Homo sapiens: one gene and its partners. The protein of the gene in region 1 purifies or fractionates together with the protein of each later gene. This does not show direct contact. Each region holds a gene or a part of one and is shown in the gene's direction. Other genes may lie near its edges.

Region 1 (3,500 bases):
CTTGCATTGGTGGCCTTATATATCATTTAATCTGATTAATAGGAGCCAATTCAGTTGCCCTTTTTTCTATTGTTCATTTTCCTCAACTGTTCCCATTGCCTCTGTTCTTCACTCATTTAGGCATAGAGGTCATCTTAATTTCATTTTCCAGATTACCTAAAGATTGTGACTACTTTTACTAAGAGAAGTTTTCCTCTCCTAATGGACCCAACATTCCCACTGAGAGTTTCTGGAACCCAAAGACCAAATGGACCAAATATCCTCATAATATTTTCTGTAACTATGATCTTCAGTAAATTCCTGTACTTTGGAAGTGTGTTTGAATTAGGTTTCTCTCATAGTAGAGAAGTAGGAGTTAGCATATAAATGTTAAAGTATTTTATACTTCTGACAGTCTATTCACATATTGATATTTTTTATTTAGGAACATGCATTGGCCCAAGCTGAACTTCTTAAGCGCCAGGAAGAACTAGAAAGAAAAGCCGCAGAATTAGATCGTCGGGAACGAGAAATGCAAAACCTCAGTCAACATGGTAGTATCCAAAGAAATTTGAAATAAAAATAACTTTTAAATACTTTACATTATGTCTATACTAGCTCCTAGGTCATTTGGCCTGTGGATAAAACCCTACCCTGTTTTCCTGTTCTAACAAGGAGATCAGACACAGCAGATTGCCTGTTTGATACTCTGTAGCCTTCTAATCTTGGCTGATTTGCATAGTCTTTTGTTGATAGCTTAGAACAGTGTTAGCCTCATCACACAGAAAATGAATGTGAATATGATAATTTTTGCTTACTCTGAGGCCAGGAGCCTTTGATTCTGCAGTTAGGCCCTCCTTGGTTCTGTGGACTCTTTATGAGTACATTTGCATGTACCCTACATTTGACTTTTACCTGATTTATTCAGGTTAATTTCAGATTATCTGCCCCAGTCCTCGCAAGTATTTTGTCAAATCATGTTAGAAAAATTGGAAGCCTAAGGTATTCATATGATGCCAAAGAAATAAGTGGTGAATTGTTGCAGTGAATTCTATTAAGTTTGTGCCTGCCAAAGCACTTCAAAGGAGTCTCTTAGGGAAAGCTAGCAGTCTCTGAGTAAGAAGAGATAAAAGAGCTAGATAAGTCATTGTTAGGATGTCTGGGATAGTGATGCAATGCAAAGCTAGAACAATAACAATATACAGAACTATTTCTTTTTAACTTAGAATGTGTAAGTCTAGGGCCTCATGAGAACACATTTATCCTGGGTCATTTTCTTGCTTGCAGCATCAGAGGTAGCATCTATAGAAGGAGAAACTAAAAGTTGAACTGGGACCAATGTTTCTGAAGTACCTGTAACTAAAATCCATCCTATTTCTTTAGCACTGGCAAATACAAACTATTTCTATGAGAGTTATGTTAGTAAAGACAGTAACAAAGAGTAGGAAATTAACAATTAGACTGCAGTATGTTAGCACATTTTAGTACTTTTCCCCTCTTAACTCATACTTAAATCATCAATACAATCCTGTGAGGGGTGATAGAGTTTTTATTCTCATTTTACAGATATGGAAACTAAGGCTCGGAGGAGAGAGTAAGTTGCCCAAGGCGACCTTGCCAGTAAGTGGCTAGCCACTTCTGGTTCCAGAGCCTCTCTTCTTTACGAGTATTCACTGCCGCTTCTCAAATAGTATGAGATTGGTATGAGAAATGAACTATATGAAATTTGAATAGTATGATAAATGGAACACAGGAGACTCATTGGGGAGAATCAGAAATAGGTTATTGTTCTTTCTATAAAAATTACCCTGGTCTGGGAAAAGTAGGTAAAATTGAATTTTTAAAAACTGTGGGATATAACATCTAAAATCGGGAAATGGCCTTAGGTGCTGTTTTTACCCGCTATTTTCATGTTTTGACTTCTTTATTTTAATTTTTTATTTCCCCCACCATTTCTCAAGTCTTATTTTTAATCTGGTTTCTTTATGTAGACACATTTTTTTCCCTTTACAGTTTGAATTTGTTTTTCTCTGCATTTTTAAAGGTTCTATAATTCTTCAGCTTCCTTATCATGACTGTTTCATGTTTTCTTTGTTGTAGGGTTTTCGTACATGTATCTTTTGGATATTATTTTTTCCCAGATTTTGAGTATTCTAAATTTGATTCTTTGGTATTGGTTTAATCTTGGACTTAACAGAAAACTTGAAAAAATTAGAAGCTAGTCTTTCTCCACTTGAGATAGGAATTATAACAGAATTATATTTGAAGATTTAAGATGCTGAGGAGAAAATTGAAGTTTAAAAACTGGATGGCCCTTTCATGCCAGCCAGACTCTTTGGACTGTGAAATAAATCTGTTTTAGGGTAGAAGCACTGGATATGTGCTTTCTTTTTGTTTCTTGTTTTTTCTGTACATAAATGGTTCCTGCTAAACATGGTATGATATGACACTGGAAAATTATTTTACTATCTAATGTGCTCTAAGGTGATGATATTCTGAGAAAATTTTTTAAAAATCTAAAGCTTGTCTTTCAGAGTTCTAGGAATACAAAGATATAGTTCTACAGTTTTTCTGAACTTTTGTTAACATAATAGAGTTTTTCTTTATTATGAAACAAAAAATAATATCACATTTGTTATAATATAAATAACCTTTTCTTTTTCTAAAAAAAATTTACAGGTAGAAAAAATAATTGGCCACCTCTTCCTAGCAATTTTCCTGTCGGACCTTGTTTCTATCAGGATTTTTCTGTAGACATTCCTGTAGAATTCCAAAAGACAGTAAAGCTTATGTACTACTTGTGGATGTGTGAGTATACAACAATTTACATCTTTGCTTAGAATTTGTATTTTTGTTGTCAAAATCCGCATTTTTATTTCAAGGATAGTATAGCAAACCAGTCTTCTTTTTCTATAGATAAAGCTTAATAATCATGATTTCAGAGTGAAACATATCCTATTTAGGTACTTCAGAATTGTACTATATGTGACAATGTAAGTCCTTGGCTGAGAAAAACTTGTATGTTGAGAACTGGCATTCTTTTGAGGAAAAGACAACTTCTCTGTCATGTGGGTAAAATTTTATAAGATTCTTTTTCCTTGAAAGATGTTATCTAGACATGATTTGCTTGGAAAAAATAGTGCATACTAATTTTATGCAGAGGAAGGCCATTTAAAAGAATTCTGTTAAATGTAGGCGTTTTAGCTATTTTTAAAAGGGCATAAAATTATTACATAAACTAAGTGTTCTTTTTATAGCTTTGAGTACAGTTTACTTTTTGTTTTCAATTGCGATACTTTTATTATTGAAAGTGCTTAATTAATACAGGACATTTTGTTGAACGGAACATTAGAATATACGTTTGGGGCTCTGATGCTTACATCACTTTGAGTATAATAACTCATGGAATACTGAAACAAAATGTCAAGCCGTTAACAGTTTTACTCTGTGTGCACAGACCTCCCACTTACTCTCTGTTTCATTTTTATTCCAAACAGTAGTCTCAGCCTCATTTTGATACC
Region 2 (3,500 bases), on another chromosome or scaffold:
ACACACTTCTTCCTTTTATATCTTAACAGTCAGTGGCCACACCTAGCTACAAGGGAAATAAGAAATGTAGTCTTTACCTAAGTGTCTATGTGCCCAGCTGATATTCAGGTTTTCTTTTATGGAGGAAGACAGGAAAAATGGATATTTGGGGAGAGCGAAGCCTTTTTGCTACAGAGTCATTTCTGCTACAGAGTCATTAAAGGACCATGTCGTTATTAGATATATACTTTGAAAGGACCTTTATGCAGTGGGGAAAACAAATGGGGGATAGAATGACTATAGGGACAAGTTTTGGAAGTTATTGCAGTGGTTCTCAACTGGAGGTGGAATTGCTCCTTCCACTAGACCATTTGAAAATGTGTAGAGGTGGCCCGGCGCTGCGGCTCACGCCTTTAATCCCAGCACTTTGGGAGGCTGAGGCGGGTGGATCACTTTGACCTCAGGAGTTTGAGACCAGCCTGGTGAGACCTAGTCTCTTCAAAAAAATGCAAAAATTAGCTGGGTGTGGTAGCTCACTCCTGTAATCCCAGCTATTTGGGAGGCTGAGGCTGGAGAATCGCTTGAACCTGGGAGATAGAGGTTGCAGTGAGCTGAGATTGCATCTCTGCACTCTAGCCTAGATGACAAGAGTGAGACCCTGTCTCAAAAAAAAAAAAAAAAAAAAAGAAAATGTGTGGAGGCATTTTTGGTTGTCATAATGACTGGGCGGAGGAGCAGGAATACTAAATGTTCTAATATGTGCACCTAGGTAGTCCCACTTTACAAAGAATTATCCTGCCCAAAATGTTAATAGCACCCTTATTGAGAAGCACTGGACTAGGTTGTGGTGGAGGTGAAGAGAAGTAGACAAAGTCATGAGACACTTGATAGATTGGCTAGGGAGGTGAGGGAGATGGAGATATCATTGAAATCTCCAGTTTTCTGGCCGTTCTAGCTGGATAGGGGAGCCAATTCCTGACACAGAAAACCCTAGAAGAGGACTTGATTTGTCAGCCTTGGAATAATTTTGAGTTCTGATTTGAATATGCCTTTGACTCATTTAAGAAATGTCAAGTTGATAGGTAGATGATATATGAGAGCTCAGAACAGAGGTAGGGACTAGAACTATTAATTGGAGTTGTGTGCAATATTGATGGATATGGATGAGGTTGACTAGGGGAGAGTATGAAATAAGTCAGTCAGTGGGCTAGGCCCAAGGAGCTCCAAATTTAATGGCCAAGTAGAAGAGATACACAGGAAGAAAACCAGGGGAGGGCTGAGTTATAGAAGCCAAGGGAAAGGAGTATTTAAGAAGGAGGCAGGCTGGGTGTGGTAGCTCATGCCTGTAATCCCAGCACTTTGGGAGGCTGAGGTGGGCAGATCACCTGAGGTCAGGAGTTTGAGACCAGCCTGGCCAACATAACAAAACCCTGTCTCTACTAAAAATACAAAAATTAGCCGGGCGTGGTGGCAGACACTTGTAATCCCAGCTGCTTGGGAGGCCGAGGCAGGAGAATCACTTGAATCTGGGAGGCAGAGGTTGCAGTGAGCTGAGATTGCGCCATTACACTCCAGCCTTGGCGAAGAGTGAAAGTCTATCTCAAAAAAAAAAAAAGGAGGCCGTGCTTAGCAGTGTGAATAATTTTTTTTTTTTGAGATGGAGTTTTGCTCTTGTCACCCAGGCTGGCATGCAGTGGCGCCATCTCGGCTCACTGCAACCTCCGCCTCCTAGGTTCAAGCAATTCTCCTGCCTCAGCCTCCCAAGTAGCTGGGATTACAGGCATGCATCACCATGCCTGGCTAATTTTGTATTTTTAGTAGAGACAGGGTTTCTTCATGTTGGTCAGGCTGGTCTTGAACTCCCGACCTCAGGTGATCTGCCCACCTTGGCCTTCCAAAGTGCTGGGATTACAGGTGTGAGACACTGGGCCTGGCCTGAATGAGAAATGTTTAATACAAGCAACAGAGCCTGAAGTCAAGATTTATCACTTAACACAGGGTAGTAGTAATAGAGGAACAGTAGAACTTAGCACCCCTGGCTTCTATGCCATTATAGTAAATTCATTATATTAGGATGCCTAATAGGAAGTATATAAGGCAAAATGTTCTGTAGCCAAGTGCTTTTGAAAAAAAAAAAAATAAGAAAGGCTGATGACAGAACTTCTACCCTAGAAGCTAATTTCTCTTTAAAGTACTGTCATCTAAACACTCCATCCTTGGCAACATAGATACTGTCACTTAAAAAAACAAAAACATAGCCTGGGCAAAAGAACGAGATCCTGCTTCTACAAAAAGTAAACAAAAATTGAGCCGGGCATGGTGGCTCATGCCTGTAATCCCACACTTTGAGAAGCCAAGGCGGGCAGAATGCCTGAGCTCAGGAGTTCGAGACCATCCTGGCCAACATGGTGAAACCCCATCTCTACTCAAATACAAAAGATTAGCCAGCCATGGTGGCACGTGCCTGTAGTCCCAGCTGCTCAGGAGGCTGAAGCATGAGAATTGCTTGAGCCCTGGAGGTGGAGGTTGCAGCGAGCTGAGATCGCGTAAACAAAAATTAGTGGAGTATGGTGGCACAGCAGTCCTAGCTACTCGGGAGACTGAGGCAAGAGGAATCCCTGAACCCAGGAGTTTCAGGCTGCATTGAACCACTGCACTCCAGCTTAGGCTTCAGAGCAAGAACCTGTCTCTAAAAAAGAAGGAAAAACCTTTTTGCTCTTCCTGTCTCATGGTGTAGCTGTCTCCCCACATAGGAAGCTGGAACGTCATAGGGGATTCTCTGTCTTCCCATTATGGACAGTCTCACCCCTTGCCAGGACCCCATCACCACAGGAGGATAATGGGCAGTTACTGATATAAGAGGCTGAGATTTCTAATTTTATTCAAATCTTAGATCATATATTGATGAGTTGTAATGGGGTAACATAGTTAACAGTTTAGAAATCTGTTGACTATGTGCTTATCAGAGCTGGAGCCCTAATATGTTTAGTCATTGTTTTAAAAATGTTTTTGCATTGATTGCTGTTTTTAGTGAATGCCAAATATATTGTCTTTAATTTTATTTTCTTAGGAAAATTAAGCGTTGTAAAAACAAAAGTACATTTAAGTTTACTAGTTGTTATCAAGGCTAAAGGCTTTATTTTATTGTCTTTGGTAATAGTTGTTGATACCAAACAATGAGTACTTCCACTTTGTTGTTTAGTGATCATATTAAAGTATTGATATTTTAAAAATGTCTGGTACATGTTTCCAATAAATATAGGAAATCATTAAAAATGATGGGTTTTATGAGAATGTTATATATTGATTATTGTTGAGATGCTGAGTACTGTGTACATTGAGTTCATTATACTCTTTTTTATGCCTTTGAAATTTTCATAATAAAACTTTTAAAAGTGGGTTTTGAGAAACCATAACATTTAGTAAAGCAAGGGTTCTTATATTTTCAAATGTCTACCAGTTTCTTTTAAATGTCTCCATTCTAAAGAAACTGTCTACCAATGGTGGGTATATTATTTTTC
Region 3 (3,500 bases), on another chromosome or scaffold:
TGATTGTCTTATTAGGAGAAATTTGCTGCATGTATCATTTGTTAAATAACAGATTTGAAATACTTAAAATGGAATTCTTTCTACTCTTTCTTGGGTGATAGAAGGGACCAATGTGTTGTAACTGATATGCTAAATATAGTTGAAAGTGTTTCTGTATAGTTGAAATTATTTCTTTGACATTTTTGTGCTGCTTACCACAGAGGTTTGATGTAACATTTTATGAAGTGCCCAGAAGTCTGTGTCCTTGTACTGGAGAATGGTGGGTTTAGGTTTTAAGTGGCCTCATTATAAGGAAAGGACTAATAAATTTGTTAATTGGCTTAGACATATATAACTTGTCATTGTATAATAAGTAGTATATGTTAGCCAGGTGTGGTGGCTCATGCCTGTAATCCCAGTAGTGCTTTGGGAGACTTACGTGGGAGGCTTGCTTGAACCCAGAAGTTCGAGGTTACAGTGAGCTATGCTTGTGCTACTGCACTCCAACATGGGTGACAGAGCAAGACCCTGTCTCTAAAATATATGCATATATATATAAAACATGCTGATTTTCTTTGAGACACTGATATTTTCTGGGATAAGAATCTGTTTGACTAACAACTCCTAGGGTACCAAGACCATTGATTGATCTGTTATAGATAATGATTGTAAGAAGGCTAAATGGTATAATGTTGATATTGTGAAGAATTAATTAAAATCCTTATTTTTACTTAGCAGATTATTTTAGTCGAGGGGTCAGCAAACGGTGGCCAGTGGGGCAAATCCAGTCACTGCCTGTTTTTGTGAATAAAATTTATTGGAATACAACCATGCCTGTTTTACATATTGTCTCTGGCTGCTTTTATGCCTCAGTGGCAGAGTTGAGTAGTTTGTGACAAAGACCTTTTGACCTGCAAAACTTAAAATATTTTCTGCTTGGTCCTTTCTAGAAGTTTGCTGACCCCGATTCTAGTACAGTCACATTTCCCTGACTTCTTACTTCTGGGTGTTTGTTAATTTTTTTTTTAGCGGTAGCTTTAGTCTATTTATAGCCTGTAAGTATTAGTAAGCCATTTGCTTATTTAGTGGATTTTCCCCCTCTAGGCTTAATTTGAAGTTTTCTGAAAATTGGGCTATTACTTTTTTTCCTCCTTAACAGTTATGGCTGATTGTCCTCACACAATTGGTGTTGAATTTGGTACAAGAATAATCGAAGTTAGTGGCCAAAAAATAAAACTGCAGATTTGGGATACGGCAGGACAGGAGCGATTTAGGGCTGTTACACGGAGCTACTACAGAGGAGCTGCGGGAGCTCTTATGGTCTATGATATCACTAGGTAAGAGATAATTTTTCAACCTTCATATGGGGAAAATAAATCTACTTTGGGCATTTAAAAAAAAATTGATAGGCATTTTTTTTAGTTTGTAATTGTATGACTGTGAATGAACTTACTTGTTTTTTATGGTTTCTTAAGTTGCCATGTAAAACTTGATATAACACATTGATATTTTCCAAAAGTTTTTATGACTGAAGAAAAATTTAGGGAGTTAGTTATTGGGTGAAGCTAATAGAAGAATACAGTTCTGAAAAGCAGCTTCAGTTGAATGATTTGAGGAGAAATAATATTTTATATAAAATGTTCTTTTAAGTAGAAAGCAAGCAACTCACTCTTGGGACTTACTCTATTTAGTCTCTAGTGTTAAAGTTTACACCTCTCAAAAGAAGGCCAAGCAAAGAGTTTTGCTAGTCCAGCATGGTAGATTATAAAAAACTTTATGCTTGCATCTGAAGGTGTTTGAGTATTTATTTACTAATTTTTTTTTCTCTTAAAATGGATAGAAATGACTTCAAATACTACATGCAGTAGGTTTAAATTTATTTCAACATGACTGTTTCTGGAATTCCAAAGCACTTGATGTAAAGTAATAAAACTACTGTACATAAAGGTTTGACTTTGGAGAACATGGAAAACTGTGCCACTTGATTAGACCCTGCACTGTTTGTCTACTGTAAGCTAGAAAATGAACTGGATCACCTTTCATGTTGATGTAAAGTGCCAGTCAAAAGCAATGTGACTCTGTTTCTTGGGGGTAAAGATGGGCGAGTGGGACCAAGTGATAATTAGAGTTTAAAGCATATTTCCTTTCGGAAAATGCCTTAAAAGGTTTCCTCTTGATGTGTCATAATGTGCGTTAGCATATTAAGACTCTGGGAAGTTCTGCAGTAAGAAATTCTTTGCTGTATGACTTTATTTAATTTGGTGTTTCCTAAGCTTATTTTATTGAGGAACACACTTTGGGAAATGCTGCCTTAGAATAAAGATATTGACTAATTATAATTATAGTGCCTAAAGTTTTCAGTAAATTCTAGAATTGGGTGGCCTCAAAGGGAAACAAGCCTTAATGCCCTTCATTATAGCCAGGCAATCTGTGATATGATCAAGAGTATTATGGGAAGACTGTTAATAAACCTGGCCGCCTACGCAGAACTGTCTGATTTTATAAGGAATGCATTTCTGAAGACTTCACATAATTAAAAACTCAATAAAATTTAAGTATGGTGATGTGTGCTAAGAATATTGTTTTTGCTTTTAAGCATATCTTTTAAGCATAGTTAATACTTTTGGTAAAATCTGTGTCTATTCAAGTCATCAAAAAAAGTACTTCAGCTGGGAACAACCAGAACATGCATCAACTGATGAATGGATAAACACTGTGATATATCCATACAATGAAATGTTACTCAGCTATAAGGAAGAAGGAAATACTGATACAGGCCACAACATAGATGAAACTTGAAAACATTATGCTAAGTGGAAGAAACCAGACACTAAGAGACACATACTGTATGATTTCATTTATGAAATATCGAGAATTTATATTCTGGTAAATTTATAGAGAAAGAAAGTGGATTGCCAGAGGATGGGAGTGAGTGACTTCTAAGTGAGTTCAGAGTTTCTCTCTGGGGTGATGAAAATGTTCTAGAATTAGATAGTGGTGATCAGTGCACAGGTTTGTAACTATCCTTAAAACAACTAAATTACGTACTTTAAAAGAATAAGCTTTATGATATGTTCATTATATTGTAATAAAAACTGTTACTGGAAAAGAGTACCCGAGGCTTTAGTCAGGCGCTAAAGTGATACTTTATAGTGACTTTGGTGTTGCAGTCATGACAGCAATTTTTTTCTGTTATTCTTTGACATTTTACAAACGTAAAAGTCCCTTTTTATTTTTGTCATTAACTCTCATTGTTACAGGGTGCTTTTCTAAATTGACAGCGTAGCTTGTCGTGACAGTTGTTTTGCCATAACATTTTGACATATCTAGTATTTTAGCACTTTTTTTTTAGTACTAGTACCACCAATTAATATTTGAATAATATTTATTTATAGATTTAAAATTATAATTATAGTGAATATTAAATTAATAACAATTACCAGAATCATTGGCAGAAGTTATAGTACATGTAAGTAATATGGTTTATATGATTTTGGTACTAGGCTTTTCTGTGTACTTCA
Region 4 (3,500 bases), on another chromosome or scaffold:
GATTCTCCTGCCTCAGCCTCCAGAGTAGCTGGGATTACAGGCGTGCACCACCACGACCAGCTAATTTTTGTATTATTAGTAGAGACGGGATTTGACCATGTTGGCCAGGCTGGACTCTAACTCCTGACCTCAGGTGATCCACGTGCCTCAGCCTCCCAAAGCACTGGGATTACAGGAGTGAGCCACCGCGCCTGGCCGTGTGTGCGTGTGTGTGTGTGTGTTTTAATCCTATCTAATTTTTCCAACAGTTTTTTGCATCCTAAGAGAGTTTAGGAGTAGAATTATCAATAAGGAATTTCATACATAGACCTGGAGTTGCAAAAATATATTTGGAGAAGAGAGCTTTCCCATTGCCCTTCAAGTCATACCTCATATCTTTTAAAATTTTTTTCCTGGACAATCCCTACTGCATAACATACCTCATATCTTCTAACTCTTACTTTACCTGGGAGCAAATATTGCTTATTGGTATGAATTTTACTTCTGAGAAGGAGGCATAGGGTAGAAGAAGCAAGCGTATAGTTTGCTCCCTAATCCTAAAGCATTTCAGATTGGAAGGTAACCAAAGTGTGAGACAATGAACTTATAATAAGGAAATGCAGCAGCCCTCTTGGAGGAAGGATACCATAAAACCCTACATGGTATACTCCCACTTCCGTTTTGGGAAAGATTTAGCCATTGACTCAACAGTAACTGAACTGAATAAGGAGCTACCCAGGTGAACAAAGTATGTGTACATTTCTGGGCAAGGTTGTAGCTTCTGTTCAGGGACAGTGGGTACCTTTTCAGAGTGTCTCCTGGTTCTGTGGTGTTATGGCTCCTTTTTTTAAACTTGTGTTTCTCAAGTCAGGAATTAATAGATAGTGGCCCAAAGCTTTTGACCGTTCAACATCAACTGAAAATTCAGCGAACTTTGTTTTTAGCTATAGTTGCCTCAGTGTTTGGGTGGGAGGGCCACATATTGGGTGTGATTAGGCCATCTGAGGCATAGTAACGGGTGACAGGAAAAGCAGTTAGCCCATGCGAGTTGCAATAGTACCTTGTGGGCAAGATCCCAAGGGGGCCCTCCATCCAAGGGAGATCACAGAGGAGCCAGGGAGAGAATTGATTCTGAGGCCTATTAAAAATATTCCCAAATGGGGCCGTGTGCGGTGGCATGCGCCTGTAATCCCAGCACTTTGGGAGGCTGAGGCGGGTGGATCACGAGGTCAGGAGATTGAGACCATCCTGGCTAACACGGTGAAACCCCGTCTCTACTAAACAAAATACAAAAAATTAGCTGGGCGTGGTGGTGGGCGCCTGTAGTCCCCCAGCTTCTCGGGAGGCTGAAGCAGGAGAATGGCGTGAACCTGGGAGGCAGAGCTTGCAGTGAGCCGAGATCGCGTCACTGCACTCCAGCCTGGGCGACTGAGCAAGACTCCGTCTCAGGAAAAAAAAAAAAGAACCCAAATGGAATTGAGTAAGATCTGTCCAGATGGTACAGAAAGGGAGGAGTTGATTGGGGGAGAGAAGTAGAATTACTTAGCCTTAATTTAGGGAGCATTTAATGAGCACCTACTAGGGATCAGGCAGCATGCTGTGCTCTGAAGATTTTAAGATAAACTCCCACTTTTAAAGAAGTTCATAGTTTAGCAGAGCAGACAGACACAATTTATATACTGTGATAATGTGATACATACTATTATAGAAATACAGTCTTTTTTTTTTTTTTTTGAGACGGATTCTTGCTTTGCTGTCCAGGCTGGAGTACAGTGGTGCAATCTGTGCTCACTGCAACCTCCGCCTCCCGGGCTCAAGCAATTCTCATGTCTCAGCCTCCTGGGTAACTGGGATTACAAGCCTGTGCCAACATGCCCAGCTAATTTTTGTATTTTTAGTAGAGACGGGGTTTCACCATATTGGCCAGGCTGGTCTCGAACTCCTAACCTCCAGTGATCCATCTGCCTTGGCCTCTCAAAGTGCTGGGATTACAGGTGTGCGCCACCACACCTGGCCAGAAATACAGTCTTAATACTGTGGGACCCTACGGGCCTCTAGAGAATGATTAATTCTGTGGGGGAGAGGGTGATTATGTAATTTCACTGAAGTAACATTTGAGCTTGGTCTTATGAGATATATAGAATTTTGCTAGGCAGACAAGTAGGGACGGGCATTCCAATCTTACCTAGGTCAATAATAGGGAGTTTGTACTACCATACTGATAAGAGGTAAGTATGCTTTTTGCCTCTTGGAGAAATATAAGGGAAAGGGTGCGAGATGTGGAAGGAATCTCATTTAATCCAATGACTCATTAGGTAACACTGGATCAACAAAATGAAGAGCTGAGCCAAGTGGTAGAACTCTCATTTCAAGATTTTGGTGACTTGGGTTTAAACAGAGTTGGAGAGGGAGATGAAGGTATTTACTGGTTTCTGCTCTATCTTCCCTACTTAGTAAAACTCTCACATTAATCGCAGGGCCCACCAAATTCTGCAAAAGTTACCGCTTGTTTTCCTATTGCCTCTCATTGAATTGCTTCTATTTCAACTGTCCTGGCAGGGTTTGGTCATAGACCTTCTAGAAAAGAGTAGTGATGAATTAATTCTTCTGTCAGAAAGATATGGGACTGCATCCCAGTTGCCAAGGAAGGCCTGGGTCTTCTTAATTTGTTTTTAGTCCCAAAGCAAGTACTTACCTAAACTGAATAGAGGCAGGAACTCTATCCAGTCTAAGCTCTCGATCCTGTCCTGGTGTTCTCTTTAGAGTTCAGCATTTCCTGCTTCCTTAAGAAGTATAGTGGTATAAGAGGCAGGAGTACCTGACTAGGAGTCCTACATTTACTGCTTAGCAGTTGGCTGTATGGTAACACTTGACAAGTTGACTAATTTTATTTTATTTTTTATTTATTTATTTATTTTTTGTGCAAATGGTGGCCTTTAATACCAAGAAAGACCATGACAAGTGACAGAACAGGAGCAAATTCCCTAGTGTAGTGCCGAGCTAGCCCTTTGCAGGACCCTAAAACCTGATCTAGTAACAGAATAAATCAGTGTATTTACATTTATGTTTGCCCTGAAAACCCAGGTAAGGTCTGAAGCCTGAGGCATCTCTCCTTCCTTTCCTCCTCCCTCTCTTCCTACCTCCTTGCCTTCGTTCACTTCCTCAATTCATTCCTCTCCCTTCTCCCTTCCTCTCTTTTCCTTCTTTTCCTTTCTGCTTTTCCCTTTTCTCCTTTTTCTCCTCATTCTCTTTACCATCTACCTATGTGTCCCTCCAAGCCCCTCTGCTATTTCTCCCCTGCTCACTCCCTCTGCTGTTGTCTCCCTCAGGTTCAGCTTCCGGGGTGGGGAGGCAAGAAAGGGTCCTCAGCTCAGGGAGCACTTGTTGGTGTTCTTTATGTCACAAGTTTTCAGGTCAGTACTGGGAGGCTTGTTGCCGTTTCCTGATCTCCGGCCTCCTGACTTGAGCAAGATGTCCCGGGCCAGGGAACTAAAAGCCTCATCCACATTCATACTGGATTT

The links. The genes of interacting proteins can lie anywhere in the genome.
Region 2: the proteins of SCAMP1 (region 1) and TAF5 fractionate together in Homo sapiens (co-fractionation; one large-scale study listed by BioGRID). This does not show direct contact.
Region 3: the proteins of SCAMP1 (region 1) and RAB14 purify together in Homo sapiens (affinity purification with mass spectrometry; one large-scale study listed by BioGRID and IntAct). This does not show direct contact.
Region 4: the proteins of SCAMP1 (region 1) and RAB5B purify together in Homo sapiens (affinity purification with mass spectrometry; one large-scale study listed by BioGRID and IntAct). This does not show direct contact.

The regions. Positions count from the first base shown.
Region 1 is NC_000005.10:78,416,117-78,419,616, forward strand, and holds part of SCAMP1 (secretory carrier-associated membrane protein 1), read left to right. Parts: intron 1-424; coding exon 425-533; intron 534-2,658; coding exon 2,659-2,787; intron 2,788-3,500. UniProt on the Homo sapiens protein: Functions in post-Golgi recycling pathways. Acts as a recycling carrier to the cell surface.
Region 2 is NC_000010.11:103,374,476-103,377,975, forward strand, and holds part of TAF5 (transcription initiation factor TFIID subunit 5), read left to right. Parts: intron 1-3,500. UniProt on the Homo sapiens protein: The TFIID basal transcription factor complex plays a major role in the initiation of RNA polymerase II (Pol II)-dependent transcription.
Region 3 is NC_000009.12:121,188,370-121,191,869, reverse strand, and holds part of RAB14 (ras-related protein Rab-14), read left to right. Parts: intron 1-1,138; coding exon 1,139-1,316; intron 1,317-3,500.
Region 4 is NC_000012.12:55,977,078-55,980,577, forward strand, and holds part of RAB5B (ras-related protein Rab-5B), read left to right. Parts: intron 1-2,294; coding exon of another isoform or gene 2,295-2,397; intron 2,398-3,500. UniProt on the Homo sapiens protein: The small GTPases Rab are key regulators of intracellular membrane trafficking, from the formation of transport vesicles to their fusion with membranes.